Linked DNA regions of Homo sapiens: region 2 is linked to region 1. The links come from fine-mapping of genetic effects on gene expression. A gene starts in region 1. The other region holds a variant in brackets. All regions are shown on one strand. Distances are between the middles of the regions.

Region 1 (16,864 bases):
GTGAACCCTAGAGATAGCCTGAAACTTATCTCGAAAAAGGAATTCTGGAGGTTGACCAAAGTTCTCAGATGAGGCCAATTACTGCCTAAGGCTCATCTTATTCCCTGGAACCTTGATGATATGGTGTCTCCTTTGAAGAGGTGGCAGGGACAAAGCAGCCCAGGCCAAATCCTAGACATCGTCTTATCCATGCCTTTCTCAGAAAGGTGTAAGTGGGAAAGCCTTCCCTTGCTTCCTTCCTGAGACTTCTCCACACTGCGACTCACAGATGATGTTTCCTCTGCCGCCACCTTGTGGGGCTTTAACTGTGAGATCTTAACTGCATTGGAACAAATTAAGCTGATTCAGTTAAACAAAATTGTAACTATGTACAATTATAGATTTTTTTTTTTGCTGGTTAACAGAAAAGGGAGATAATCTATATTTCCCACTAGGGAGGTAAAATCATGGCTATAATTTCAACTTAAAAAACATGTTATAAAGGCAGAGAAGATAACCTTCTACTTCATTACCTCTACTGCTAATGTTCTCTCCAATCTTCAGAAAAAAATCATTTAAAATTAAGCTGCTCAGGGCCCAAGATACTTCTGCTACAGAATCAGGGAAAAGGGTATAAATATCTATAGGTAAGGGACAAGGTAACATGTATTGAGGATATTTATAGGGATCGTTTTCATGACTGTGCCTATGTTACACCTCCCTGCACCTTTCTTTTGTGATTCTATGGCATCCTGAGCTAACCTCTAGCCACAGCACTCATCTCACTTTGTTACAATTGCATTTTGACTTATCTGCCATTCCTAGTAAGCTATAAGCTTCACAAGGACAGGCAACATGTCTTCATTATTTTTGAATCCTCAATAGTAGTGTAGAGCTTGGCACACAGGAGGTACTCGATGCATATTTAGTGAATAAATGAACATCAAATGCCTACCATGTGCTAGGAGGTGTGAGGAAAACAAAGATCTAGACCTATGCTTTTCCTGAGCTTTCTATATGTTACCACATTTAATCTTCACAACTCCATGAGTTTATGAGTGGGCCTATTGTTTTCTCTCGCTCAGTATTCATTCCTTCTGTTTTTGGTAAAACTGCTCCTAGATTTTCTTCTGGAGAAACCACCCATTTCCTCATCCTCAAACTATCTTTGGGTAGGACTGACCCCTTTCCCAGCTATTGAGCTGGAGCCTTATTAGTTTAACCTACTCAACATATCCCACTCCCTAGCTATAGTGATTAAGTGTGAACACGGAACCCAATTAAAACCAGAGAAATCCTAGCACTTTGGGAGGCCAAGGTGGGTGGATCACTTGAGGTCAGGAGTTCAAGGCCACCCTGGCCAACACAGTGAAACCTCGTCTCTACTAAAAATACAAAAAAATTTAGCCAGACATGGTGGCAGGCACCTGTAATCCCAGCTACTGGGGAGGCTGAGGCAGGAGAATCTCTTGAACCCAGGAGGTGAAGGTTGCAGTGAGCTGAGATCACACCGCTGCACTCCAGCCTGGATGACAGAGTGAGACTCTGTCTCAAAAAAAAAAAAAAAAAAAGGACCAGAGAAATAAAAGTGGAGATTCCCTGTAGCTATTTGTAACAGTGAGTTAAGGTTGGGTTAAGGGTTGGGAGGGGGCATCCCTCTATGTCCTAAGAATGGAGGCAGAAGGGACAGCTGGAGAAATGTGGGTCCTTGGAGAAACTGTCTATATGCCAGATGAAACTTAATCTAAAGCTAGCCCAGGACTTTGAATTACATGAGCCAATAAATTCTCTTGTTTAGATATATTGAGTTGGATTTTCTGTCATAATATTAAGAGGACTTATTGATCTTCTAATAGGGAGTATCCCCATTTTGCAAAGGAGAAACTGAGATTTAAAGAAGTTGCATTATATATTCCAATGTCATACTGTCAACAAATGAACTTGGAGTCAATTGTCAACCCCTTCGTTATTTATTGCACAGTTTCTTCCAGAGTTAGCATGGATGATAATGACTAGAACCAATTAACCTAGTCTCTTGAAATCAGAATGTGTGTGTGAATTAATGAAATCAGTATTAACAAAGTTAAAAAAATAAAATGTTAATAAAGAGAAATTGTCCCAACTCTGACATTGGTATTAACTTATTATCTGCATAATGTGCTTAGCTGATAGGTAGTTTCCTACATGGATGTTTCCTACATATTAATGAGGGAAAATATCAAAATTTAAGAACTGAATATCAGCTGATTTTTTTTTGTTATTGTAATACTACGATAGACTTATAGGCTGAAGCTACATGTTTTGCTTAGTTAACAGTTGAAAGTTGAGTTCAATAATAATTTAGTTTTTCAAATTTATACATGAAAAGCTATATTTTAGGCAATGCTTTCCAAGGGAAATTAGTTTTGTTTCCTTCTAAACATGTATTTATTGATGTGTAGATTTATTTAAAATAATGTACAGAAAGATATTTCACATAGGAAATCAAATACATAATTATTTGATCTTTGTTATCTATATGCTCAAATGGTTTCTATGTCCTCACTCAGACATTTTTTGTATCTTCTTTTCATTTTATTTTTTTGATATCAGTAACAACCATTTTCTTAGACACTTTATGAGCAAACTCTAGCCTAAAGATTCTGTTGCTAGGTAACATCCTCCTTTCTCCTCCCATCTCCTCTCCCTTTCTTTTCTGCTGGTTGCCATAGTGCCTCTCTTAATGGGTGGCTCAAGTCCTTACTATAATCCTGGAAGTTGAATAAAAACCTAAGTATATCTCTCTCTCTCTTTCTGTCTTCTATATAGCCTAGTTGCTCAGTGAAATATTTGGATTTAATTAAGTATCAATTAATCATTCAGTATAATTACTCTATAAATATGTACTTTACAATTTATCTGGATTTTTGGTTTACCTTACAGAACAATTTCATGGGTTGAAACTCTAATTGAAGAGTTGTTTAATTTGGGCAGGGTTGGGAATTTAAGTTCTGGAATTTCATTTGGATTTAATTAAATACAGATTAATCATTCAATATAATTACTCTATAAATATCTATTTTATGCAATTTATCTGGATTTTTGGTTTACCTTACAGAACAATTTCATGGGTTGAAACGCTAACTGAGATTTGTTTAATTTGAGCAGGGTTGGGAATTTAAGTTCTGGAATTTCTTTTTCTTCAGAGTGCTTGACATTTTCCACCTGCCCATAAAGATCTACTTTTCACTCTTCTCTACATTGCTCTGTGCCAGGGAGCCTAACCTCTGTGGACTGCGTCAATGAGCTCTCTTTTCCTCTAGCTTCTGATCAGATTCAGCCAATGGAAGCAATAGCAGGAAAGCAGAGGTAGGGAGAAGAGTGAGGTTTTGGTATTTATTCCCTAGGCTAATCTTAATGCAGGTCATGGTGCATCCGTGTGCTAAAAGTCATGTGTCAGGGGACCCTCTTCATACAATAATTCTATCCATGTTTTGATAACTGCTTTCTTGCCTCGCACCTTCTGCCTAAGGGTGGTAATGGGTCCTCAACACTGCTTGCACTGGGACGCTGTATCAGGCCTGATTGGTTTATCTTACCTATGTCAACACTTTTGTAAATAGTGACTTTATTACAATCCCTCAATTACTGTGTCTGAATGTGCCATCTGCTTTTTTCTGGTGGAAGTGGCAGCAGCAGCAACTGAGCTTTATGGCTAAAAGACAGAAAACAAGGAAAGCGTTTAAGGTAAGGTGAGCTGAGAAGATCTTGGGTGGTGCATTAATTGGGCTCATTATACCCACCCATAACTGATCATGGGTCGTCATCTACATTAGTACCTATCACAATTCTTACCCCTCTTTGTACCAGGAGAGTACTAAGTTTTTTTCTCTTTCTTTTACTTCAGTTCCTAATTTTGGATAACTCAAGCAATGAAGTGTTTTATAGCTTGATTCTTAGGTTTTAAGTAACATTAAAGGCTCTAAGAATGGGACTTTATTCTCTCACACTCATTCAAAACTACACAAGCACTGGTGATTGTGTAGTGAAAGGTGACAGCACAACAGTGAACATTATGATCGGGGTCTCCTGTTTTCAGCTTTCAGATTTTGTGTGCTATTTCCTGAACATGAAAAATAATCAGTTCATGTTTTATTTTAAAAATATTTTGCAACTGCTTTGATCTGTGTCTACATCCACAATGCAAGTTATTACTACGTTTCCTCTGAAGATGTAATTGGTGCTACTTATTTCACAAGATTGTTGTGAAAGTCAAATGTGATAATGTGCAAAATAGCTGTGAAAAATATCAAGTGTTATATAAAAGAATAAATTGTAATTTTTAAATTTTTATTACCAGGTTTTATTTCCACCAATAATTGTACATAAATATGAAGGGGGGCACTCTTATTTTACACATACACAAAACACCTGAGGATTAATGTGGAAATGAGATGATCTCAGCTTTTAGTTGGCCAAGAATATATTTAAGAATTGGGCCACTTTTATGTTTTTGATGAAACGATTTTTAATTTTTTGTAACAGGACTACTCTAACTTAACTGACACTACACAGAAGCGAGTTACTAACCAATGGGATAAGCATCAACATAAAAGAATTTAACTGACATATTTAATTTATATATTTCTAGAGAGTCAGCTTTGTGGGTGTATCAAACCCATGTTATTACAGAAGCGGGTTACTAACCAGTGGGATAAACACCAACATAACAGAATTTAACTGACATATTTAATTTATATATTTCTAGAAAGGCAGCTTTGTGGGTATATCATCCCATGTTATCTAGGTAGAATCTAAATGATATTCATAAGCACGCAACTTGGATTTAAAATTTAAGGTAGGTATTTTTCTGATCTTACCTGAAAAGCAGATGACTTTATTGAGGATTTTAATCATACTGTTGCTGTTCTTATTCAGCATTAGTTGTGGACACATACTGTGATCAACATTATCTACATATATATAATTTCTCAAGAAGTTTTCATTGAGTCCAAATTGCTTAATAGACTTAATAATCAAAGTGAGGATGTATATATGCAGAAAGTATACCAATCATCACCTTTCTGAAGAGCCTTGTTAACAATTTTATGCTAAAATGCACTATTATTAAATTGCTTTAGAGTTTGTACTCCTGCCAAAAGAGTACTAGTATTTTCAGAATTAAAAACAGAAAACTGTGTTATTGAGAGCTTAGCTGAAGAAAGGTCAGTTTGCCAAGTGGCTGCTTGAGGTAATAAATGGTAAATAATATTTATTTTTGTCTTATTTGGCATGCTTATTATTTTTCTTCTGTCCTCACTGGTGGGCAGTAACCCTTAGAAAGATACTGAAAGGAACAACTTCGGGCTTAAAATAAAATTATGACTGGATGGCTTCACTTGATAGTGTCATATTTTTATGTCTTATGCAAATAACACATATATATCTTCATTATTCCATATTAAAAAAATGAATAATTTCTGGAAAAGTATGATAATTATTGCATGTAGATCAATTAAGGAAATCTATGTTAAGGAATATTGGAAATCCAATTAAGGAATACATTTTAGCATAAAATAGATAAATACTAGGGTAGATCAATGTGACAGAACAACAGTGAACATTATGATCAAGTGTCTCTTTTTTCAACTTTCAGATTTTGTGTGCTATGAATGAAATGCTTCCCTCTCCAAATTTGCATGCTGCAACCCCAACCACCAATGGGATGATATTTGGAGATAGATCTTTAGGAGACAATTCAGTTAGGTGAGGTCATGAGAGTGGGGTCCTCATGATGGGAATTGTGCCCTTATAAAAAGAGACCCCAGAAAGTTTGCCCCCTCTCTGGCTATCCTCATGCACCAAGCAAAGGTCATGTGAGGACACAGGGAGAAGGCAGCCATCTGTAACCAAGGAGAGAGGCCTCACCAGGCACTGACCTTGTGGGCAGCTTGATCTTGGACTTCTAGTCTTCAGAACTGTATGAAATAAATTCCTTTTGTTTAAGCCACACAGCCTATGGTATTTTGTTATGGCAGCCTGAGCTAACAGACACTGTGTACGTACTTTCTTAAGTGTTATATGGATTTAGAAGTCGTCAGAATTATTTTCCATATGCAATTGGCTATACCTTTAATCCTCTAAGTCATAAAACTATTTATATTATTAATTAATTTTTATAATCAATGATGCCCAAAGAGGCCTTAATTTCTTAGTCCCCTTTCACTTTCATTATCAGCATCAGCAATTTGTTAGGGCCATTTTGGAGGAATCCTCCCTCTCTAAAAATAAATTCTTTGCCACTTGTCATCAGTGTATCAATTGGAGAAAGGTCTGTTAAGATGCAAATGCTGAGTGGTTGGTAGGCACCCTCACCAGAAGCTGTTCACTCTAGGCAACCTCTTAGATAAACAGCCTGACATAGTCACTTAGTATCACAGGCGTCTCAAATTTAACATCTCCAATATTAATTCTTGATTTGGCACTATCCCAAACTGCTCCTTCCCCAGTCTTCACCATGTAATTTAAGGGCAAATCCAAAACACCAGTAAACCCTGCTGGCTATACCTTAAAAACAGAATAATCATCTCACTACTTCTCACCATCTCAACTGCTATACCCTAGTAGGTCACCATCATCTCTAGATTACCAACAGATTGCTAACAGATCTTGTTTCTACACTAACCTCCTTCTGTCTGTTGTCAACAGCTGAAAGAGTGAGCCTTCCTAAATCGTATCATGTCCCACTTAGATTTCAAACTCTTCGGTGGCTCCGTATCACAACCAGAGTATAAAAGCAAGTACTTAAAATGGTCTGTGAAGCCCTGCATGATCTGCTCCAATGTCCCCGCTTCTGCAACCACTTCCACTACTCTCCCTCTTGCTCAATCTATTCCAGGCTCACTGGCCTCCTTGTTATTCTTCAAATAGGTCAGGCAGGGTTTTGCTTTAGGACCTTAACTCTAGTTCTTCATGGAAATGTCTTCCTACAGATACCTCCAGAATGTCTAACTCATTCATGACCTCTAAGTTTTTGCTCAAATCTTGCCTTTTCAATAAAGCTACCCAAGTACTCCATTTAGAGCTACAACCTACTCTGTCATCTCCCTACCCCTTAACCTTGACTTAGGTTTCCTTATTTTTCAATAGCATTTATCATCTTCTCACATGGTTTATAATTTACTTACTCATCATTTTTACTTACTATTGTCTGTTCTCCCTGCTAGAATGTAAGCTCCAAAAAAGCAAGGACATTCCTCCCCTCCTATTGATGTATGTTTTCCACATCTAAAATAGTGTTACATTATACATGCTCAATAAATAATTATTGAGTAAATGAATTGTTCTATCTAAATGAAATTTCTTAGTGATATAAAATAAACTCCATTAATGTTGGTTTCCATTAGCTGGTATGTCTTATTTATTTTATATATATATATATATATATATATATATATATGATTTATATGAGGCAAGTAGGCTCTGGGTTTGTGATTGAAATTTGCTGAGGAGCTGTGACTCTTTTCTCTCCCTCATTCATATAGTGGGAAAGAGAAAATGAGGTGGCAACAGATAGGAAAAAGAACTGCAGTTAATTTATTGTTTACATTTTACTGGTAAATGTGCTGGTTAATTGAATATCTAAACTTATGATAAGACCAATGCCACCAAGATTCAGAAGAAATTCCATAGTTAGACATAATCCTGTAAGCTTTATAGTCACCAGAAAGGATGTACCCTGTGTAAGAGAAGTAATTAAATTGGCTAATCTTGGTCAAAACAATGTGTTTCCTTGGCTATTTCTCTAGTTATATTTTCTACTGCCATTTAAAAACTTTTAAAGCCTTTTTTCTTTTATGGTGTAAACAATTTTATTATATTCTGAAATACAGCACTATGGTTGGGGATGGAGAGAAAAGGGGACATACAATGTTTAAGAAACCACATTCTGCAGCCATACTCTCAGATTTGCTAGTCACTATGCAACTGCATTTGTGGGTAGTGAAATACAATTATCCACCTTACTTTTCACATTTGTAAAGTGGGAATAATAACATATACCTGATGGAGTTGTTTTGAGAAATAACACTTCACAACACACAATGCCTAGTACGTCGTATTCACTCTATAACTATTTTTATAAAGTAAAGAAGGATTTTATTAAAAGAAAAATATTTAAAAAGCAAATTTTTTAAATAGACATGACATTTTCATAAAATGCTATTGTTCATACAGTATTAACTTGACTCATGGAGGCAAATTAACATTACTGTTATTTAAAAAAAACTCTATGGCCTTATTTGAATTTTTATACTAGAATATTTAAAATTTGAAACACTAGTTTTAGAGAGAGAGATGCTGTGTTGTTCAAAGTCCTCCTCTGCATCTTCATGGTAGGAACTTTCTTTGGTAGCCCTTTCTCTAAGTTAAGAGATATATTGGCAGGAACTATGAAGGATCTGATATTTTACCCTAGTTATAAGCAAACAAGTAGAGTGCCACAGTTTCATGGAAGTTGGCAGAATGTGTGAGATTCCTGAGTCTGAGACAAATAACTTTATTACTCAAAGCACAACAGGCACCATGAGCTTCATACTTCCATAGATTCCCCTCGTTCTGAAGTCCCACAAGGCGAAGAGGAGCTGCCAGATGGGTGTTGTACATGCACTGTGTTTGTTATGCAACTGGAAGAACTCCAAGCTTAGGAAAGTCCTAAGAAGGCTGCTAGCAAACGTACCCAAACTTTGCCCTGGCAGGAAATACTATCTTTGCAATTAAATGTGCAGAAAGGCAAGAAACCCATGGGGCCTTAACTCCCAACTGCACAAATGCAGCTGCATCAATAAGGCTATTTTGATGAAAACAAGATGCACAAAAATTTTGACCACAGAATCAGACTAACATTGTAAATGTAAACACTCAATCCTTCCTAAGCAGTTCTTTGAATATGTAGTTAATCCGTTGGAATAAAATTTTGCAATGGTTTGTTCTTTCTAGCGCTTTATCATTTGATACCTTCATAAGCCATGCATTTTTCCCTTTTGCCACGTAGGTTTTACCCTTCCCCTCTATTTATTTATGCCAATAATTTAACCTTAGTGGCTTAAGTATTTCTTACAGCATTGAAGGAACTTACAGACACTTTCCCAAGAGTAGCTAGGACATCGGCAATCTTCCTTTCTCTCTGCTGTTTCCTCTGAGAATTGTTTCACAAGGTCCAACATCCTCTTCTGTAGCATAGCTGAACAACAGATACTCAGCTCTGCAAGGCTGATTTCCTTTGTGAATAGTTAACATTTTTTTGATAGCCTTATTTTTAAGAAACATGTTAGCCCTTCTCTTGTTCTTCAGAGATAACTCAAAATAATATCATTTGGTTTTTTCATTTGTTCATAAGCCAAAGCTACAGCTGCCTTGTCCTTTTAAAGTCAGAGCTACAAAATTCATTTGAGTTCCAGAGATAAATCAGACTTGTCCATTGCTATTACTTAATAAGCCAAAGTAATTGAACATTTAACAAGAGTTTGCCCAAAGGCTGAGTCAGATTATATACAGGACACCGTCTATATTATCAGTGTATAAACAGCAAATAAGTTTTTAGTGTATGTTCACGTCCTGTGCAATATTTGGGACATACTTACACTAAAAAAGTTTATTTGGAAATCAACTTTAACTAGATATCCTGTTTATTTGCCAACATGCCACAATTCAGGTCACCATTTATCTACCAAACAGAATCAATAACCTGTTCGTCCAATGTGGCCTCAAGTGGGTTTTGGCGCAGAAGCACTCCTCCTGGACCACAGGTGTGGTCCTGGTTGCAAAGTTTTGATGTGACATCAACACTACACAAAAGTAAATGTAACTGCAAAATTTTGAAATTCACAGATGGGTCTTTGAAGTCCAGCTCAAAAGCGTGGAGGGCTGGTTAAAATAAGTCACAGACTTGCCGGTTTGGGGTTTCTAGAAAGAAAAGTAACTTGAGGAGTTGAAGGCTTGTAGAAGACCTTTCCACAGAGAGTGGGAATTCCGTTGCAGCAGCCAAGGCTTCTTCGGGATTTAGAAGGAGAGCGCGCGAGAACCTGAGGGAGCCAGTAAGAGTCGAGCAGGGACTGGAGGGCTCCCGATGGGGTGTAGCCAATCAGGGCAGAGATGGGTGGGGCTAGGCTGCGGGAAGGGGCGGACTGCAGCTGAGTTGGCTCCAAAGTGTGGGACTCAGCCAATCGGAACCGTGCAGGGCGGGGCTGGCCTGCGGAAGGGGGCGGGTTCGGAGGAGTGAACTGTGCGGTTAGTGCGCCTTTCAGCCTCACCTGCAGCTGCGCCTCCTTGCACCTGCGCCTGTGCTTTTTCTCCCAGCACTGCGGACGCGACTCGAGGGTGACGCTCGCTCCGCTCGTCCCGCTCGTCATGGCCTACCCGGGATACGGAGGAGGGGTGAGTCCCAGCCGCTTGGTCGTGTCCCTCTTCCTCGCGGGGTGTGGCGCCCCCGGGGGCGGTGCCAACGTGCGGGTCCGCCCTTGGCTCCTGCTCCCTGCGTCCGCGCCTGGTACTCGGCGGCGCCGGATTCCGGGGCTGTTGGGGGCCAGGGCCTGGGCGAGCATTGATCCTGGGCTGACTTGGAGCCGCAGGTTTTCTGGTCGTTGAGGACCCTCGAGGAGCGTCCTGGTGGAGCCGAGGGAGTAATGTGTGTTTGGAAATTTATTTCCTGGAATGGAGGAACAAGCCACCCTCTTCTTGTTCCAGTAATCGTTTGTGGTACTTCCCTCCCCCGCCCCCCACTCAGTGTTGCTAGAGATCCTCTTTTTGAATTTCCTGACCACTTCTTGTTCTTTAAGTTCCTTATGAATAAATTAAGGTGTACGGTAAATAACTCCTAATCTTTACTGTTATACGAAGGGCAATCTGTTCTAGACTCCCCCGCTCGCCCCCAGGCGGGGGGAAGTTACTCTTTGTTATAACTTTTATCCTGCATCACCTTTGGGAGTTGCAAGTTATAATCGTAGAGTCCTGGTGGCTAGCCCCTTCTTTTCAGAAAGGAGCCCAAACCTTTAGTATCGATGTCAGTGATCTACACGCTGTGTTAACAGAGTTAACAGTAGTTTGATCCATTGCGGTGTGGGTAGAATATAATATATTTTCTATTTGTTTTTTACCTAAAAAGAGAAATTGTGTTTTACTGATTTTAATATAGGACTTGACTTTGGGCTATGGTTGTGGTCTTCAAAAGAGTTACTCCTACCCCTTGGAGTTCATGGTGGTGGTGGTGGTGGTGGTGGTGGTGGTGGTGGTGGTGGTTGTGGTTGTGGTTGTTGTTGTTGTTTTAGGATATGAATTTCCAGGTCCTCAACTTCCACACATACTTGTTCCTAAAATTGATTTGCTTTCCTTAAGACTTGCCTCAATCCCCTCTGGCACCGTCCACTTTGTAATGCCTATGCCTCCTCAGTCCTTAAATTTAGGAAGGAAGTTTAAGGTACCTAAGGAAAGTAAAGCCCCTTCGAAGATTAATCAAGATAGCATAAACCTGTGGGTCTTTAAAAACGTCCCTAGCGTATACGTATTTTCATTTGGTTGAAGCTATCTGTTAGAAGTTTGTATATTTACTCCTCTTGGTATGCTCTGAATTCATATATGTATGGTAGAGTGAGGTGGCAAGAGTAATACATTTTCATTCAAATAATTTGGTGCTTCCTTACCCACTTTTGTCAGAGTGCTTGAATTTGATGGAGAGTTCCACGACACAATAAAGAGAACGTCTGTATGTGTTTTGAATATTTAAATCCCCTTTTCCATGAATTTAAAATAAACAACTCTTTTCAGCTGTTGTCATGCTCATTATTAATCGCCGGAAAGAGAAGTACCCTCAATAGCTGAAGCAATATATAGATTAGAGGCACTGATTTTAAAAAATGTAATTGAAATATTTTAAGATACATTGGATAAAATTTTGGGATAAAACTTACATGATTTCTTTAGTAGGAGAATATTAATAAGATAGTTGAGACGTTTATAAATCCTGTTAAAGGAAACCCATGCCTTATTAATGTTTCTTATATTCTTTTAACAAAATATAAAATGTCAGCTGCTAGACCTAATTGTTTTGATAGTATACTTTTATCTAATTAAGTGCATGATTTATCTCTGTAGGAGATGCATTTCCAATAGATTTTTACTTTCTTCTTTTAAGAATTGTTTATAAAAATTGTATTATTTTCTTTTTTTTACTAATTGTATACGAATAAAAATTATAACTCAATGTAAAGGACTTTTTTCTTTGTTTCTCACTTTGGTCACAGGAAATGAAACAATCTAAAACTTCGTTACATGTTTTTGTTTGTACATGTTGTATTATACAAGCTTCAGTGTTTTCAATAATAAAAAAACATTTTAAGCACAGAAAACTTAAACAGATTAGATTTTCACACAAGAAATAGCATACAAAATCAATTCAAAGATGAAGAATCTGTCCTTAGGAATAACTTTTAATCTGTTTTCCCTTCCCAATTTGCAGCATTAGCTTTCCCCAGTCCCATAATTTGAGAACCTGGTGGTCAGATTAATGATGGTTACCAATTCTTTACCACTCCCCTTATCGAAAGGCACAGACTATTTCTCCACTTTCTTCAATCTGGATTGGGCCTGTTTCACCTTCATCTGGTAGAATACAGTAGAAAAGACACCATGGCAGTTCCAGACTCAATATTTTAAGAGGACTGGCAGCTTCTCTTTCTCTCTCTTAGAAGCTGACTGCCAAGCTATGAAAAAGTGGAAGAGCCATGTGAAAGGGCCCATGTGGAGGAGAACTGGGGCCCCTGGCCAACAAGGTTCATCCCTAAACACGGTTTACATAAATTTATATTTCAAGTTGTCCTCTTGACAGTTTCAAATGAGTCAAAATTGATCATTATTATTATTACTACATAATGTGGGTAAGGAAAGGCTTAGACAATATTTTCATGTCCAAGCCTTTCATGTTGCTTTGCATGTTTTTGAATCTTTACTATTGCCATTTTGTTATGGCTTTAGTTAAAACTAGATCACATAATCTGTAACATCAGAGAATCCCACATATATAAACTGTAATAAGTCACAATAGGCTGAAAAGAAACAAGTGGGAGGCCAGCATACAGAACTCTATGTCATCCCTCAGGATACTACCAGAACCACAGCAGTTTCTTTAAACATTTTGCTTCCCGCCCCTTAAAAGATTTTTGAAAAACTATATACCCTTTTCCCATATTTTATATTGACATATAAAGTTTTTATTTTAAGTTTAAATAGTTGTAAAGAATACAATACCCAACATATTGTAAATGTTGACACTTAAAGTTTCATTGTATTTACACATATATTCTTCTAAGTATGTGTCTTGAGGTTTACTTCTTAGTTTTACTTTAGGTAAAATCTTGCATTGTTTTACTTTTTGTTTACTTCAGTGATGTTGGTAAACATTTTTTAAAATTGTACATGTTCCTCTTAGATTAAGTTCTTAGAGGCTAGTAACTTTCTTTTTTCTTTTATACTTCTTTTAATGCTGGGTAATATATGTTGATGAATTGAATTATGTCTTAATGTAGGACATCTAACATTTTGTAGTTAAAATTTTTGTGATAAGATTATAAGCTTTTGGTAACTGTTTACTTTTTGACGGACTTCTAATAATTTCTTTTAATCCAACTTTCATAGATAATAGGTAGTATTTATATTACTAACCTTCTCCCCTTTCACTATTATAGTTTGGAAATTTTAGCATTCAGGTGCCAGGAATGCAGATGGGACAGCCAGTGCCAGAAACAGGCCCAGCTATACTCCTCGATGGATACTCTGGGCCAGCATATTCAGACACTTATTCCTCAGCTGGTGACTCCGTGTATACTTACTTCAGTGCTGTTGCTGGACAGGTGAGATGCTAAATTTATTGCATAAATATGTCTTTAAAATTATTGTTTAAGAGAAATGTCAGCTATTTAGAGTATCATTTTAAATGTATATGAAATTTATATTTTATATGTATCTAGACTAATTTTTTTCCTGAGATCAGAGATGAGCATAGTCATAATTATTTCATTTTAAAAGTCTGTTGATGTGATGCTTGATACATTGTTCATTTGACTAAAAGAGGAAACATTGTTTTCCATAGTGCGGAAATCTGATTCTTTCTTACCTAGTATGCTTGCGTTACTGAAATTCTTCTACAAGGGGCTCCTCTTACTAGTCACTAAACACCCCACCAAAACTTAGATATATCTTCTTATGAGTTATAATTTTTCTGTCACTTAAATCTTTTTATTTCCTTCACTCTGTTTGACATTTAGGAGCATCATACTCTCCCTGAGTGATAGATAACACAAAGCTAAGTAGGTTTAGCCTGCACATTCTTTTATAGCATGCAAAAATGACTATTGGAAATTTTAGGAAAGTAGGAAGCACTTTAAAAAATTATAAGGAACAATATTTCTAACTTGGGCCTCACTCCCATTTTTTAAAAAAAACTCAGTTAAAACCTAAGTATGTCAAACAATATGATTGGAAATCACTTCAGAGTCTCGTAAATTTATTCAGGTTGAGAAATTACATTTTTTTCACAGGTGAAGTTATATCATTTATAGTAATTTTGATTTGATATGGCTGGTAAATTTTCCAGGTTATCAAAATAATCATGTCAGGATTTATTAATTAAAAATTAAAGGAAATAGTATGTTACGATGTGGTATGGTTTTAGGATGTTATTTGTTTCCAGTAAATTTGAGTGATTATTTAAAGGACTGACTTTATTATGACCAATAGGGACGTGTGAAACTGCCAGTTCAAGTACATGAATTCTGTGGGTGAATTGTTACTGATGATATGTGAATACTGTGGTCAACGGAAGCTTTTCTTTTACTCCTACATAACTGTAACACCATACCACAGTTTATTCTTTTCCAAGTGATTTTATATATATTTTTCATGTGAAATTTCAAGGAAAATTAAGCAAATAGGATATGTATTATACCCCTTTGTATCAGTTATTAGTTGTATTTGACAGAAGTATTGAGTAAATATTCAAGATCGGAAGGAATACAATATTATAAGATGCCAATGTCTTCCAAATTAATTGATAAATAATATAATATTATATGAGTCAAATTCCTAAAGGTTTCTTTTTCTTTTTTCTTTTTGGCACTTGCTGCAATGATTCTAAAGTCTGTCTTGTATACTATGTTGTTGAGAATAAATATTAAATTATAATATATCATATAAATGTATTATTAATAATTGTGATAGTGTGGTCCTAATGTAAAAACAAACATAATACTGAAGAGCCCAGAAGCTTACCTGTGAATTCAGTATATGGTAGAGGTAGCATTTCATATCAGTGGGGAAAGAATGATTCCTGAATTAACTATCCTGAAATAATTAACAGTTTATCTAAAAGTAAATGTAAATCTTCAGCCTGTACCATATAGTAGCATGAATTCCAGATATATTAAAGGATTGAAAAGAGGGTGTATTGATGTTTATCTCCTGTTGTTGAAATAAATGAGCTTGTCTTTTTTTTTTTGCTGCTGCTTCAGCATGTATTGCAGCACCTGCTATATTTGTGTTTTTGTCTACAAAACTTCTTAGAAGAGTGATGAACTAAGATAGTTGCATGTGTTAATGAAACATTTGGGAACATCTTTTTAAGATGTGTGTTTTTTTTTCTTGATATGTTTCATTCACTTGTTTAACAATTTGGGGGGAAAGTTGAAAGCTCTTCTGTGGTTATGGAATACAGTGGATTGGTGCATGGAGACTGGGGGCCAGAGAGGATTTGGAAAAAGAGATCTACATGAAAATCATCTTGAAGGAGTTGGGGCAATGTATCAAAGAGGAGATTTGTAAATTGTGGATGGTTCTGGGACAGGCTCGATGATAAAACAGATTAGGAAAAGGCAAAGAAACTGGCAGAATGGATGTTCTAATACCATACTAATGGGCAGAAACAGAAATTCACTCTAGAGTCTTAGCTGTAGTCCATATCTCTTTTCTTTTATAATGGTCAAGAAAGATTTATTGATGTAGGTAGAATTTTATAGAACTTTAATAACATTTTATTCATTCCCTTGAGTGTTCACTAGGTCTAATGTGCTTTTCTAGGATTAGACAATATACACAGAATTAATATACGTGGCAGACATTCTGTTTTGGCTACCCCAATTTCATTTAAAACCCCCTTTTACCTTTTATTATGTAATAGAGGCTGGGGAACTATAATAGTCACCATCCCAGATACCTTTGTAGCTATTAAAGGCAGCCATGTGCCGTAGGACTGACCATTGACATGTAGGTGCAGTATCTTTGGAAAATCTTTCTACCCCAAATGAAAAAAGCCTTACTGGGAGCAAGCCTTGGCTGTGGCTGTTTTTGCCCCTTCATTCTTCCTGCCTGGAAAGGGGACTTGAGGTATGGAGGTGCAGTAGCCATCTCGTGACCCTGAGACAACAGGCTTGAGATAAAGACCTATAGATAGGGAATGTGGAAAAATGTAGAGACTGATGACATGTCTAAGTTGCCATACAGCCCTGTTCTGCCTAGCCTCAGACCTATTGTATGAAACAATAAACCCCTATTGGTTTAAGCATCTTCAATAATATTTTCTCCTGTTTGCAGCTAAATGGTACCTTAACTGTTCTACTCATTATACCATTGCCATTTTAAAGGATTATACTGGGAATAAGTAGTATTATACTGAGAATAATTCTATTATCTCTGTTTGACTATATAATACATTCATCATATAAAATTACAACTTAAAGTATATGAACTGGACATATATTTGGAAACTCTTTTTGACTGCTGAACTATTTCAGCATTTTAATTGTCAGCAATAAATTCGCTATGTTTGAACTATTTGATACTTTCCTTAAATTTCCCAGTCTTG
Region 2 (16,864 bases), 630 kb after region 1:
AATTGAAGGTAGACATTTAACAAACAAAACATCTGCTTACATAAAATAATTGCCCCCAAATATCCCCAGAACTATAGAAAAGAGAATTTCAAATTTGATAGGAAATCAACTATAAATATTGCTTTAAGTATTTAAACATATAATAGACTTTCTAAATTTCTGAATTTCTTCTTAGAATTTTAAGTTTTCTTGGGAAATCTATATAATGGATATGACTAGGTTTTACCTTTTAGTATTCCCTTACCTCAAATACATGGGAAGTATTTTACCTAAAGAGATACAAATATTTATTGTAACAAATATATCTATCTAGGTAAATTGTAATTTATCTTGAAGAAAGGGATGTAATTATTCTTGGTCATGACAATGCTTCAGATGTGGCATTCCCTGTCTTTGTCAAATTTGTTTTTCAACCTTTGGATAACAAAAGTTTTTCAAATATGGTGGTGAAGGTATTCTTACTACTTAACAAAGACAATATGTACAGAAGAATACTTTGGGAGAATTTTTGGTAATACTCTAGAGTTGGTTAGTGGCCTCTTTGTTATCTTGGGCAAATAATTTAACTCTTTTATGCCAAATTCAATGAGAATAGGTGAAGCATTGGGACATTTTCTCCCTCACCAGCTACGCATGTAGTACATTAACTTTCTTTTTTAAAAAAATAATTTGTAGGTTAAAATTGATATTCAATAATGAGATTTTAAAAAATAGTGTGCATATAAAAACTTCTATTTGTTAAATACAATATGCAATCGAAATAGAAAATTTATGAACCAGAAGAGCTTAATTTTCTATAGTATCTTGATTCTACATGACTTTAAGGGAAAAAAATTATATAGAATACAAAGGGAAAGCTTTGAGTCATCTATATAGGTTTCTGATAAGGGAATCAGTCTATCCCTTATCCAAAATGCTTAGATAAGAAGTGTTTCAGATTTTGGATTTTATCAAGTTTTGAAATGTTTTCACATATCTAATGAGATGTCTTAGGGATAAGGCCCAAGTCTAAACACAACATTTATTTAGTTTTCATATGCAACTTGTACAAATAACCTGAAGGAAATTTGATATAATATTTATAATAATTTTTGCGCAAAACAAAGTTGTGACTTAGTTTTGATTATGACCCATCACATGAGGTCAGATGTGAAATTTTCCACTTGTGAGGGCAAATTTCAGATTTTGGGTCATTTTAGAATTAAATTTTCAGATTATGGTTGCTCAGCCTGTGTATACATAGGACGCCTATATTTGACATTCACATGTAATTAATTGTATGGCCAATTGAGGTCAGTTAATTTAATGGAAAAAGATGTTTGATTCTTTCATTTAATTGACCAAAATAAAATATTTAAATTTAAACTGAACAGCAAATATCATATATTAAGTTCTTCACCACCTATGCATGTGGTATAGTCACACAGTTGTGAATATATTACTTAGAATATACATGTTCTTGCATCTTCAGGATCACCTAGCAAGATGTGAGCCAGTCTCATACAAAATCTATTCCATTCAGAATATCCATTAAAATGAGTAATCATATTTGACATAAATAGCTTCCACTCTGGTTTACCATCAGACTACAAACAAATAGTGTAAATAATATATGAAACAATGATGCAAATCACCAAGAAGATGTAGCTCCCAATGAGAAATAGGGATTCCCTAGTTTCTTATAAGGATGCCTCCCAAGTTTTGTAATCAGTATGGTTTATGTAGAATGAAGATCTTGGCAGATCCAAAGAACTAGCTCATTAGTTTCTGTAATTCAGGCTGGATGAAGGCCATGCCAATACACAAAAGTTTACCTACTACATTTAAAGCAAGTCCTTCCTGTGCGGCATGAGTTTCCCTTCTTATGGTGTCACTGAGCCAACAGAAGCTCTGGCTGTGAGCTCCTACCCAGAGCTTGTCACCAATTAGATGTTCCCTAAATTTTTGTTAAATTGACTCATCAGAATTTAGATAACTCATCACTTCGGGCATCACTTGGGGAGGATCAGGCTGATCTACTAGACTCCCATGATTACAGCAAACCTTGATACTGTGGTTACTCTAATAGGAAGCAAGCAACTTGAAAATAACAAATGAAATGTTTTATTGTAATATGGAATAATCTCCTTATTTCTCCTTTGCTTTCCACAGTCCATCCCAAGACTGTAGCTAAAAGAGTATTACCTTGCTCATACTTGTCAGGCTTTAAATAGAAGTACTACTTTATATTCCTTGAAATTAGATGTCATATTGGTTTTATTTCCAAAGACTAAGTTGTGACATCTTTGGTGGCCAGTTTTTCATTTTCCTCCTTCAATTCAAGTCACTAGAAAGTAAACCAGATAACAGCAAAAAACCCCACAAACTGCTGGAGAGCTATCTTGGAAACCTTTTGTTAACATCAGATATTCCTAGTTGGGTGTGCCAACAGCATTGTTTATAGGGTGACTATTTGTGTTTTACAGAGAGATTAGGCAAGATTTAGCAGCTCACCAGTGTAAATCCATCATACTGACTACATTAAGACCCAAGAAATAAATGTAATATATTTCTTTCATATAGCCAACAAGTTCTCCAGCCATTTAACAGGACATCAGTTTTAATAAAATATTAGCCATGCTAGCAAAACCAAATGTAATTTGTGGTGGCTTATTAAAACTAAAATCCCTAGCATGTTAATATCACAGCTAAAATCACTAACCTGAAATAATATGATTCAAAGAGATTTGGATGTCCACCACTCTTCTCTGAATCCCAATGATATGTAGCTTCTATAACTGAAATAAAACAAGGAAGAGTCACCACAGTTGTTCAGGAGCAGCTCAATAACACAATTAGTGCAGCTTTGTTTTTGAATATTATATAATAAGTTGGAGAGGCTAAGTGATATTTTCCATAGACTTCAGCATTTGTTCAATAACTTACGAAAATTCTATTTGGTCTCACTAAGTGAAATAGAAGAAAAATATTTTTACCTTCAAATTTTAGCTTTGTTTACCCTTTCAATTGTCAAGATCAAGTCTGTATTTCTGGCTCCCATTTCAAATTACTCAAGTTTATATCTACTATAAAGAAACAATAGCCCATTTGTATATGAAGCACCTTTTTGCAGGCTGTTGTACATGGGCACGTTAGATCTGCTTTCCCAGCACAATAGCATTTTGAATATTTTACAGCTATTCCTGAGGTGAGTTCATTCACTGACATCTGTCTCAAAACAGTAAGCATTTTGTATTCACCTTGTCTGTGTGTTCTAAACTCACACATCTTTTATTTTTCCTTGAGGGAGATCATAAATGCAAAGATGTATAATTAGCCACCCCGTCTACCTGTTTTGTGGCAGTCATTCTTGTATGCGGCATTTTATTTGTAAAGAGCTTTAATGTGAACATTAACAACAATTTATGAAGCACTCCACTCAAAAACAGAATCTGGGATGGAGTACATAATGATAAACAAAAACGGAACATGTGCCTGCAGACAGCTGTGAGTGACACACACACACACACACACACACACACACACCCTAAACTGGGAAATCTTCCTAGAAAAAGGTCAAGCAATAGTGAAGGGAAAGATGTGGTGAGAAGCGGGGGTGAAGCGAATAAAGAGGCAAAACAGATTTTAAATCCCCCACAATAGTGTACAGTAGTAAAAGGAAATTTGCTTGCCTCGGTTGCTTAGAAAAATATGTACAAAATGAAATTTAAGTTAATAGTGTTCTATGTCAGTCTTATACTATCAAATATTTCTAATGTACCTAACTGGGTTTAAACAAGCCAATTTCATGAGTTTTGCCCTCAGGAGAATTACAACACCCCACTCAGCAATAGATGGAGTGGGAAGGTTGCTAGATTAGAAATCAGAAGCCTCAGATTCTAGTTTCAGGTTGAACGCTGACTAATTATGTGACTTCAGATATGTTCTTTAACCAAACTGTGTTTAGTTTCCTTCATCAAGCAGGAAGAAAATGTTTTGAGATTAAAATCATGTGAAAAGTATTTAAAATATATGAAATATAGCAAAAACTACAAATTACAAATGTAAATATATAAAGCTATTTACAGGATATGTAGAATGTACAATTCCTTAAGTTAGAATTTTCATCATATCTTTGTGTGTGTTTGTGTATATAATATAATTAAAGTGTATGTAGGTCTTGCAATATTTACAATAGTTATAATTTAATATGGGTACAAACTGAATGTATTTTAACTGTGGAGTAATCATAAGAGAGGATAAGTGCATTCCATTGCTATTTAATGTATCATTTAAGTCTATGATATACATTCTGAACAAGTTTTCTTTTTAATTTCATAAAATAGAGTTAGAATAGAAAAACCAAGCAAAATAATTTATCTTTTGTTTCTCACACAAAAGGTCAATGAAATTCAAGTTTAAGAGCAATATCAGTGAAGCAATAAGGTTATTAGTAAGTAAAAAGTAAGTACAAGTAACGAATAGTTGAAATAAAAAGAGAAAATTTATCACAAATAATTAGATCACATAGGATGAAAGCTCTTTTCTAGTCACACACGGGCAAAAACTGTGCCTTTTCAATTAAGTAAAGTTTTCCATCAGAGCAATAAAAACTCATTTTAAAAAATAGCAAAAAAAGTTAAAAACCTGATTTCACAAATCCTTATCTAACAAATCAGCATGTGGGTAAGGTGGCAGATTATGTATGCTTATTTTTGTGTGTTGGTGTACATATATGCATATATATAAGGTAGAATCATGGTGACAATCTATGAGCAAAAAGAAAATAAAAATTTTTCTTTCTTCTATATTCCTCTGTACTCAAAAACGACAGGTGTAGGGGAAGCAATGCAAAAGAAAATAGATTCAAACTATTTGTATGGCAGTTTATGACTGAGTTCTAATTCTAAGGTGAATGATAATGATGGCTAGATGTCTAGTAAGTATAACATTGTCTGTAACAATATGGCTATAACACATTTAGTGTCAAAGTCATTATTTTTTATCGATGAGATAAAACACTTCCTAGAGGTGGGTAGGCCTGTGGTAACATACTGTGTATCCATGTTGATCAAATTTGCCATCTGGAACAGCTTATATAATCAAATAATGCTTTTGACACTGGGAAGGAAGGAAAGAAGGAAGAAAGGGAGGAAGGAAGGAAGGAAGGGAGGGAGGGAGGGAGAGAGGGAGGGAAATGGAATCAAGGGAGGGTGGGAGGGAAGGAGAATTAAAAACAGTATGTTGTACATTTTTAAAAGAGTTTCTGGTAATTTATGGCTAATTATAGTAAGTGAACAAATATTTTAATGTCAGCTCAGAGATTCATGACCTCATTAAGACCCTTAGTGATCCTAAATTATGTTTTCTGATACAATCAATTTACTATAGTAAAATCTAAGTCATCTAGCTACTTTTATGCTTGGCTTCTATCAAGCAGAGACAAATATAAGAAAAAAATGAGTCCCAGAAGCCTAATATTAAAAACAATTCTCTAAATATTTCCTTTGGGCCAGTAAATATTCATTTCAGTGAGTTCTACCTCATTATTCATTCTTCATGAGAATGTAGATCCCTGAAGCATTTTAGGAATCTGTGTTAGCAAGGAAAGTCTCAGGTTGCTTTGCTTCTTAAGACAGAAAAATGTACAAGAACATATTTACAACAATTTGGAGATTTTTTTTTTGCAAAGTCAAGGCCAAGAAAAAAAATCCAAGTGAAACAGAACAGCTCAATTCTGCAGCATGTCAGTCAATCAAATTTTTATTAAGCCTAAGAGATATAACATCCTCTAGGAAAGGACCCCGTCTGTACCCTTTGACATATATAATGTGGTTTCACGTTTTAAAGCATTCACTATTATTTTAGTATTACAATATTTTATTTATAGTTTCAATACCATAAACAGAATTTGTTCTGAATCAAAAACTTCTTAAGAATAATTTCACTCTATGTGGACAGCTATTTCATGAATCTCCTAAGCTATAATGGGAATATTTAATATTCTACTTTAATAATAATGATTAATTTACCTGATTAAGGCGTACTATTTTTCAGATATCAAGAATAATATTCTTTAAGTTTGGTCTCAATACTTGAATGCTGTGAAGTCACACAGGCAGCGTGTTGCATACTTTAGAGACAAAGAATTCACTTCTCTTTCGCTACAAAATCCCATCCTACTGCTGGTTGCTAGTGTGTTTTGGTGGTTGTGTCTTGTTTTCCCCTCCACTTCTGACTTGCTGCTCTTTAAGTTTGGGTTGCCAGAAGAGACAGGTGGTGCATGAAGGTTACTTAAAACAGTGCCAATTTTAGCTCTGCAGCAAACATGGGTCAAATCAAGTGGAAACTGATGTTAGGATGGGAGAGAAGTTGAGAGTTAGAAATGGGCATGATCTTTTTCATCCTTTGGATGCATTTTTAACATTTTCTCTTGTTGTGAGTGGATAATCAATGGAGACTTCTGAAATTTAGATTAACAAATTGTATTATGGATATACTGTGTACCAGATACTGCAATACAATATCTCATTTAGTCTTTGTAACATTTCTATGTGGTAGCTAATATTGTATACATTTTACAAATAAGGTATTCAAGGCTTACAGTAGTAAGCTGACCTATCCAAAATTGCATGTAGCTAAAAAACGACAAAGCTCAAGTATAAATAGAACTGTAGTTACATCAGCAGTTGTCAACTAGGGGCAATTCTGCCCTCCAGGGGGGCATTTGCTAATGTACAGAGGAGACATTTTTGGTTTTCACAACTGGGAAAAGGACAATATTGGCATCTGGTTTGTAGAGGCCTGGGATACTACTCAGTATCCTGCAACATACAGGACAAACCCCCAAACAAATAGCTGTTTAGCTCTAAGTTTCCATGGTACTGAGTTTGACAAACTCCAAAACAGAGGTATTTGAACACTAAGCTCAATTTTTTTCTTATCACAACATTACTTTTTCTCTGAGGCTACTAATAATCCATCAAAGCAATAATGTGGAACACAGTTCTTGAGATACTGTGTAAGATACATTAAGAGGGATGACTTGACCTGGGACTCAAAACAGAAACTGCACAATGGAAAAATGTTACGTTATCATTTATGCATTTTTTAAGTGACCAGCCAGCTGTCTTTGGATAGACGGAGTTGAGCAGTTCAGATTCAACCCTTGCTTTCAAGTGAGAAGATAACCCATATGTGTGCATGTATGTATACGTATGTATATATGTATACATATCTAAATATATATATAGAGAGAGATATATAAGAAAAATAACTATATGGGTAACATATGCTGAGTGCATGTGTGGAGTAGGTAATAAATAATAAATGCTAACATTTAATGAATACTTACCATGTGACAAATGTACCTATGAGGTAGATATTACTGTCATCTGCAATTTAGAATTGAAGTTTAGAAAGCTTAAGTAACTTTTCCAAACATCCCATATTAAGATGTAGAACTGATATAAACCCAGGTATCTGGCCCCAGAATTTGTGTTCTTAATGAGTATGTTATACCTACACTGCTACAGATGGCAACAGGAATTCATAGAAATTCTTCTATGAGAAGTCTACACTGACTCAAGATGGCTTGTAGGAAAAGGAGACCTTAATATATTTAGAGGAGTGGGAAGGCACTTCAGAGAAATGAGAAAGGCTAGGAGATAGGTGCTTGTTGCATTTGGGAGACACTAGCTAGAGTGGACACCATGTAGGAACATGGAGA[C/T]ATAACTGCAGAGAAATCAAAGGCATGAGGCACACATTCACACCTTACTCCTACTTCAATGAAAAGTTAAGGTATCCTGGTGTAACCTACATTGTCTTCGTGTCACTATACCTCAAAACTCAAAAGCACAATTAGATAGAAGGAACACAATCTAGTGTTCGGTAGCACAATAGGGGCAAATTTAGCAAACAATAATTTATTATGTATTTCGAATTAACTAGAGGAGTGAAGTTAAAATGTTCCTAACACAAAGAAATGACAAGTGCTTAAGGTGATGGATACCCCAATGACACTGATTAAATCATTACACATTGTATGTCTTCACATGTACCTCTTAAACTTATAAACTATTATATATCCATAATAACTTAGAAATTTGAAAAGCCTTCAACATTTTTCCCATTTACTTCTTCCTTCCTAGCAAGGCTAATCCCTCTATGTGATCCCCCAAAATTCCCCTACATAGGAATCAGATCATAAACATTCCAATCCACCTGGCTCCCTCTTTGCTTCACACTGTTTACCTCCCATCTCCTGCTTCCTCTAAGGTCTTGTTCTGTCAGAATCTGTGTTGAGTTCATTGCAATAAACTCAGAGGCTAGCATAGTGTGCAATATAAAAATATGCTAAAATATGTTTGTCAAAATAACATATTTTTTTTCCGTGAACACCTTTCCTGCTGCCTGCAAACATGTATGGGTCTCCATGTCCAAACAAATTGTTCCTTTGATATAACTACTATCTTAATTTCCTGGACTAAATCACTTTAAGGGCAAGTTTCTACTGCCAGAAAAGAGGTTACAAAAATGTTTGGGTCTTAGAACTTTTAGATTTTAGAATTAGACCAAAGGTCTATAGACTGCAGACATAGTGGTTCCATCATTTAGTAATTGTATATTTGGGCAAGTTTCTCAACCTTTCTGTGCTTTAGTTTTCTCATCTATAAAATGAGGATAATATGAATATATATCTCATAGGCTGATTATAAGGAAAAAATGGTGTTATATGTGAAAGTGCTTCATGCAGAAGAACGATCTGCTCTGTAAGAGCTAAGCTACTACAACTTTTTGTTTCATTTTTAATATTAATAGTCCCCCAAGAAGTAGGGTACCCAAGAAGTAGGGTACCATGCCCATTGAGTTTGGGGTGTCAGGGAAGGAGGTGTAGTTCGAGAAGTCATCCACATCTGTAATTGCAGCTCAGAGTAAGGATATTCAGAGTAAGAATGTTATTTGTCAAGAATTAAGTGCTGGGTGGATGAGAGAGAAAGGTTCAGGCAATTTGAAAAGTCAAAGGCAGAAAAAAAGAGCATAAGGTATTTCCAAATCTTGATAGCATGAATAGTAATGAAGCAAGGAAAAAAAGAGAAGAAAATGAAGATAATATGGCAGAAGAGCAAAACGAGCTGTGAAAGCAAAGCACCACAGTTAAAAACAAGAAAAGGAATTCGTTTTTTTTTTAATATCTTAATAGGACCTCAGTGTGAAGTGTGCTTTGTTTCTTAGTTCTAAAATTTACCCTTTCAAGATCAAATATTTACTAAGCATCTTCTCTGTGCCAATCACATTCTCATTAACCATTTCTTTGACACTTAAGGATCCAGTAAATTAGATACTGTTATCCCTATTTTTAGATATGAGGAACTGAGGCTTTAAAAGTTAAATAAAATAATTAAAATAATTAGTAATTTGTGGGGTTAAGATTCAAACCTAATGGTTAGCTATTTTATATCTAGATATTTGATTACCTCATGTAATGAAGGAAAAATAATTGATATTCCAGGAGAAATAGAAGACTCATATGTCATAATAATTTTATATTTATCCTTCTCCCACTTCCTGCAAAAACTTCTTAAGAGTCATCTACATCTCCTGACTTTATTACTTGCCTGTATTTATCTCTAGTCTGCTCCATTCTAGCTTCCACCAAAAGAACACCTCTGAACTGCTCTTGATCATGTAAAGTAGGTCTTCTGTATGTACATATTCAGTGGATACTATTGCTTCCACATCTTACCCTCTCAACAGTGGTCAAAATCGTTAACTATTTTCTCTTTCAGAAACATTTTCTTCCATTGTGGTGTGTGATGGCATAGTATTCTTGCCTCTCTGTAACTGCCCCCTTCTCATTTTTATGTCTGATTTCAACTCCTTTAGCCAAGCTTTAATTGTCAGAGCTCTTTGGGGCAAAGTTCTAGGACCTCTTTGATTCTCACTCTTGGCTTATTTCCTAGAGATAATGTTACCCACTCCCTTGGCCACTGTTACTCCATTTAACAAATTTCTTTCTCTAGCCTGCTAGTATCTCCATTCAAATGTTCATTCATACATCTTTTAAACTTTCTGTATCCAAGATGGAACTCATTATGTTCCTCCAAAACCTTCTCCTGTTTCTGGTTTTCCAGTCTACTCCAAGTCACCATCTCATCTGTACCACAGCAATAATGTCCTAGCCGATCTCTTTGTTTTTATGATGTTATACCACTGTAGGTTAGAAAGCAACATTTTTCTAAGAGTAATAGGCTTTCTGAATTGAAAACGAAACTGAATTTTTTAAAAGATGAGTAACAATACTTCACTATTTTAAAGCTATTGTCCTGGTGTCCCCCTTTCATCCACAACAAATAAATTTGTAGAACACAAAGAGCTAAAGATAATGCTTTTGACTCTACCTATTTTTTATAATTTTTAGAAGAAAAACACATAGCCTAATCTTTTTATCATTTTATTTATTCAACAAATATTTATTGATTGAACACTATATGCAAGACCTTATGCTAGGTGTTGAGAATTCAATGGTGAACATAGCACATATACTCTCTACTTTTTTGAAGTTTGAAATCTGAATGGTGGAACATTTAACAAACAAATAAAATAATATATAGAATACTATACATTGACTGCTGTAAGGAAACAATAGGATGCTGTGATGTGTTGCATGAGAGATGACAGCTGATTTTTTTTATAATGGTTGGAAAATATATTTGTGAGGAAACGAATGTTCCATAAGAGCCAGTCAGGCAAATAAGGAAGAGTACTGCAAAAAGAGTGTATATGACATGCAATAATCCTGATATGGGAAAAAATAATCTATCTGAAGAACTAAAGATGAGCAATATGGTGAGTTAGGTCAATGTGGTGGATTGAGCTATTAGCTCCAATTTTTCACTCTAATATCTGCATCCTTTGCCATGTAATAATGCATTTTCTTACCTAAAAGAGGAGTGTATCTCCATGCCTTTTGACTTTAGACTCAACGTAACTTTCTTTGATCAATGGAGTATGAATGGAAAAGGCAGTGTGCCAATTCTGAATGATCTTTGCAAACATTGCAAATTTTGTTTGGCTGGTTCCATGGCATGTCTGCCATCTCCATGATAAGGACATGCTGTGCCCAGCCCACTAGTGCAAGAAGGATAAGAGACATATGAAACAGAGCCACCTGGCTGACTGGCAGATCAGCCAACTTTTTTCAGCTTCAAGCAAAACTACCCAGCAATGTCTACCTAGTCCAATCTACCCCCCTTCTATGGACATATGAGAAAGCCCAGCCAAGATTAGCAGAGCCACTTCAGCCAACCCACAGACATGTAAGAAATAATGCTTATTATTGCATGCCACTGAGATTTTATAGTTGTTTATTATGCAGCAATAGCTGTCCAATATGACAAGGTAGGAAAGACAAAATTAGGCCTCATTGAAAATTGCAATATGTTCTGATGAACCAGAAATGAAGATCAAGTTACAATGGCTAGGGAGGTAAAAAAGAAAAAAATAACAATTACATCTAACATCATGGAAGCCAAGACAGAAAAGTAAGTCAGAAAAGAGGAGTGTTCAACTATGGCAATCTAAGTCTAATGAATGAAATAAAAACTGATAAATGCCCACTGGATTTGGAAAACATTTGTGGCTTTGACAAGGTAATTAACTTGAATGGTAGAGAAAAAACTTGGATGGATTGAGATGAAGAGTAAATGGGAACAGAAGTAGAGATTTTATCTATAGACAATTTCCTCAGGAGATATATTTGCTCTCAATCTTAAACAGGACAAATCTTTCTCTCCAACACATAATACGGGAATTAGCTTCCAGTCATGTTACTTGAATTGAAATTCAACAGTACTTTTAGATTTCTTCAGGAGTCTAAGTAGTTTCTTAAGAGAGTGTCATTCACTGCCAAACAAACAATACTAACATGTATGCATATTGTGATTTATTGTTGTGATAATAAATCACAATATAAATACATGTTAATATTGCTAATTCGATTTGTACAACAATGAAGAAAACTTGATATACTTTACTATCTATGTTAAACAAAGTATCTGTTTGATCATTTTTACAATATTATGAATGAAAGAGAAAATCTATCTCAGAAAAAAAAACAGCAAAAGACAAACTAGGATTTTCACAGATTGATAAAACTATATATGGAAGAAACAGTAAACAGTGAAAAACCCTGTAGACAGATGCTTAGATTAGTTTAAAAACAATAGATGTGAGAGGTAGTTTGTAAATAAAGTGATATGATCAAAACAATAACCATACAGACTGCTCTATCAAAGTGAACAGCCACAAATTTAAGAAGAATTTGCATTCTGTATCTAATAGGCTTTTAGCATATAGCACATTCAAAATGAAAAATTAACAGAACAAAATGTCTTGTTTTTATTAGATAATATTTTCTCATTAAAATTCCAAGAACAAGATTGAATACTATTACAAATATATTTTATGTGGGAAAACATATACATTAAGGTGCCAAAGCATACCCAGGCAGTTGGTGACATTTTTTTTTTGCTTTGAATCACAAAACTTTTATATTTCTGCCAAAACAAGGAATCTTTTTAGGATGGCATATCTCCAGTTAGATAGTTATTTTGTCAGCTTGCATGCTAAAAAGGTAGATTTTTACACCTTTGGAAATCAGATGTAAGCTCAAATCTGATACCTAACAGATGAACGATGTTCTCATAATTGAATAAAGAAAATGATCAAACTCCTGCATGCAGCTACCTAAAATATCACATACCCACTAACCAACATACATCAGCACAAAAGCAAGGATGTGATGATGAGAGACTCAAGAGAAAGTGATAGAAGACAAATATTCACAGGGTTGGATTGCAAATACCCTGGGCAGAATAATAATTTGATATCCCTTTTGATTCATATTCTTTATGTATTTTTTCAACATTTATTTAGGGAAGTGAGGATGAGCATCTGTTAGAAATAGTTTACTTGTTTGTTTTTCACCTGGAGGGATGATCTAAAGAAGTGAGAGTGAAACTAGTCTAATAATAACGATCTTTATAAGGAGAGCAATGATAACAAACAGTATTTTCTTCTGTTCTTAGTACCAATGGCTTTGCACTGCTTGAATCTCTCTTCAAGAGAATTTGCTGCAGAGACCATAATTGGCTGAGTTTTCAGTGCACTTTTAATCCACCATTACAGCCACACCGTGGTCATGCTTCCCTTAGGCTGCTTACAGCAATGACTGACAATGGCAGAACTACCACAGCCAGCCATTTTTGACTGACATGGAACTCCTCCAGGAAAACCTTTTCTGAAGACTCCTCATTATTTTAGCCTAGATTTTCAATTCCAATTCAGTCTGAAGCTCTCCTGATGCACTCCTCTTTTCTTCCCTCACTTCTTTTATAGGTGTCAAGCCTGTACTCAGAAAATAGGAAAAGAAATAATTTGAATTCACATGGAATGGACAAAAATATTCATTTTACAGTTTTGCCCGAGGGTTATATAAACTCTCTGGTTGTCTTTCATAATATAGTTTGAAGAGATCTGTACCTTTTGGACATTCTGTCGAATGTGGCATTTCTTTGCTAATCATTGACATCATCATTTCACTTAGGACATCATGGTGATCAAGAGAGAATGAGCATGAAGAGGTTAGAACATGGGAGGACTTGGTAAGACACATGTATTAAATGAGTAGAGATTAAGCCCTAGGAAAGTTGAGAAATTCAGAGACTTTCCATTTAGTTAAAAATGTTAGAAGATCCATGGTAGAGGGCATGTCAGGTTATTCCCTCCAAAGTAAAAGACCAATTGCTGCATCTTACATCCTCTATCACAGAGAAGGAGGCACAGAATCTGCTAGGCCTCTTCAAGTTCTGGAGTCAACACATTTCAATCCTAGGAATATTGCTCAAACCTCCATACTGTGTGATATGGAAGGCTGCCAGTGTTGAGTGGGGTCTTGAGTAGGAAACGGCAGCACAGAAGGCCCAGATTGTCTCTTGGGCCATAATATCTGGAAGATCCTATAATATTGGAAATATAAGCGATGGGAAAAGATTCAGTGTGGAATTTATGACAAGCCCAAGTTACTAGCAATGCAGACTTCTGAGATGCTGAAGCAAAGCCATGCCATTCACAGTGGATAATGTTGCACTTTTTCAAAAAACAGCTCCTGGCATGTTGCTGGGTCCTTATAAGAGAGGAATGCTTGACCACTGACTCTGTACCAAATGACTGTGTGTCTAGAACTTTGCTTACATGAGATGACCTTTGTTGGACCCATCAAACCACAAAGGTGAACAGGCCCATTAGCAGTCCATCAGAAAATGGAAATGGTACATCAGATTTGAGCTTGAGGAGGATTAGAGCAAGTAAGCTGCATGAGCAGATGGTCCAACCTACATATCACTCACCAAGGTGCACAAGAATCCAACCTCCAGCCCACTCACATGGTCCCATGGAGCAGGGAAAAGCATCTCAAATGGCAAGCTGAGAGACTATGAAGGAGCTCAAGCCTGGTTTACTAACGAGTCAACATGGCATATGGTGCCAGCTTAAAATGAATGGTAGCTGCAGTACTACCACTTTCAGGAATGACCTTGAAAAGCAGTGGGGATGGAGGTAGTCAGCTTGGGCTGCCATAACAAAATACCATAGACTGGGTGGCTTAAACCACAGAAAATGTTAGTATTTATTATTTACTTATTTTCTCTTAGTTCTTTAGGCTGGAAGTCCAAGATCCCTGAAGTAATATGGTTGGGTTCTGATAGGGCCCTGTTCCTAACTGGCAGATGGTCACCTTCTCATTGCACACTCATATAGCCTTTCCTTGGTTTATATGCTTGGAGAGAGAGAGAGAGCGTGCTCTTTCTTTTCCTCCTCTTATAAGGCCAACAATCCTATTGAATTAGGACCTTGCCCTGATGACTTCATTTAACTTAAGTTACCTCCTAAAAGCCCTATCTCCAAATACAGTCACATTGAAGTTTAGGGCTTCAACATATGAATTTGCAGAGGGAGAGGCCACAATTCAGTCCATAGCAGGTGATAAGGAGAAATACGTGTGGAACCCAGCTGATCCTAATTATAACTGAAATGGACATATGCAGCAACATTGGCTTGGGAAGTTAGGGATGTCTAACTTTAAAAACAATTGATTCTAAAGTAAATAAAATATGAAAATATTATATTAATATCTGATGACATATGACTGTTTTTAGATAGGGTCTTGTTCTGTCACCCAGGCTGGAGTACCATGGAGCTCACTGCAGCTTTGAACTCTTGGGCTCAGGTGATCTTCCCATCTCAGTCTCCCAAGTAGCAAGGACTACAGGTACTGCACCACCACTCCTGGCTAATTTACTGTTATTGTTACTATTATTACTAGAGAGAGGGTTTCACTATGTTGCCCAGGTTGGTCTTGAACTCCTGGCCTAACATAACCTCCTGTGTTGGCCTTCAAAAGTGCAAAGATTACAGGCATGAGTCACTATTTATGGTCTGGAATATGATTTTTTAGGGTTACACCTACTGGGAATATATTCATACCCCATTACCTACCAAGTTACAGTATTGTTATACTACCATTTTAAGTTAGATTTGCAATAAATGTCTTATTTATGTATTTATTGAACTGAATTAAACTTAGTAGAGATTCAATGGTGGACCTTCATCTTGTCCGCTGCTGAGAAATTAGAACTCCAGTACCTCAGAGGTTCCATTTATTTTTTTTTCGGGGTTAGGTAAAATGCCATACTTTTCTAGAGAATGGGCGTAGTAAACAAAAAAAAAAATCATCAGTCTACAAATCACCTTTAATATGTTGTACTTGTAGTTGTTTCCTCATAGCCTTAAGCTGATGACCCCAGATGTCCCTCAGGCATCACACAGTGAACATATACATTTGAAGATTACGATCTATTTCTGGAGACAGAGGTTCCTGCAAAGGGGGATGTTGGGAATATAGCATGGTGAATCATGCTGTATCACAAAGCCAAACAACAAAATCCATCCAATTATAGGTCTCCTCACAGGTCTTCAGTACTTATCTAAAACACAAGGGCATTTCCTGCTCACTGGAGTTTGGGCAGTATTGATTTTTTTCTTCTAAAATGTTTACTGATTTAGAAATTTTCACAGTATAAAGCATTAATGTGAGAGTTGACTATGTCTTGTCTCTAAAATTCTTAAAAGCCACAACTATTAAAAATATGATATACTTGTCATAGCAAAGGATGATGGGGAAACTCAAAGATATTTTGAGTAAAACAAATTACAAAAGTTCAATTTCCTTCAGAGGAATAAATAGCCATTACAGTTTATGCAAAGCATACAAGGTTTACATTTACTCAAATTGTGCTTTGAGAGGGAAGAAATCTGTTATAGATAGAAAGCTATCAATTTCTAAATTCATAACATTAGCCCTTGTGAATATTAAGCAAATCATCAGAAATTCTGAACTTATTCTGAGAGAAGAACAGCATTATGTAGCAGAAGCAAGTGGTCCACAAATTAAAGTTTGCAAGAATATCTTATTTATTTATTTTCTTTAACCTAGTTAAAGTCAGTGCAGGTCAGTGAAGAACCCTCATTTAGTTGTCCTGCTGGGAAACTTCAATTATTTTTGGTGTCTCCTTTACTGCAGAGAGTAATATAAAATACCACAGGTCTCATACAGCACATTTGGGGGCAGCCTCTCTGGTTTTCTACTCATGCCAGTTATCCTGGGGATGCCCATTTGTTCTGGCCAGCAGCATCTCTTGAAGTCCTTACAATCCACTGTTCCAGTAGAAAGCATGCAGGTGAACATTAGTCCTTTCTGCCTTGAATGGAATGGCAAATAATAAAGAAATTTCACCTATTGTGGCCCCAATGTGTGGTGGCAAAAAAG

Alleles and levels. Positions count from the first base shown, and alleles are read on the strand shown. Sizes are in standard deviations (SD) of each study's normalised expression.
With allele T in place of C in region 2, the expression in cerebellum of the gene that starts at base 10,249 in region 1 is lower (large effect, 0.95 SD a copy in GTEx).

What was found. PIP is the estimated chance that this variant, and not a neighbour inherited with it, causes the effect.
Region 2: its variant is the best candidate, but not a certain one, in a credible set for the expression of GCA in cerebellum (GTEx, PIP 0.56).

The regions. Positions count from the first base shown.
Region 1 is chr2:162,333,884-162,350,747 of GRCh38, forward strand. It overlaps GCA (grancalcin), which reads left to right and starts at 10,249. Exons shown (of 8, transcript NM_012198.5): 1 at 10,249-10,392; 2 at 13,695-13,859. The coding sequence starts at 10,366. RefSeq lists enhancers at 9,806-10,035, 9,888-10,057 and silencers at 10,086-10,235, 10,476-10,555.
Region 2 is chr2:162,968,709-162,985,572 of GRCh38, forward strand. No RefSeq gene overlaps it. Among named protein-coding and RNA genes, the nearest start is that of KCNH7, 140 kb to the left of the region's middle. The variant C/T (reference allele first, on the strand shown) is at 7,709.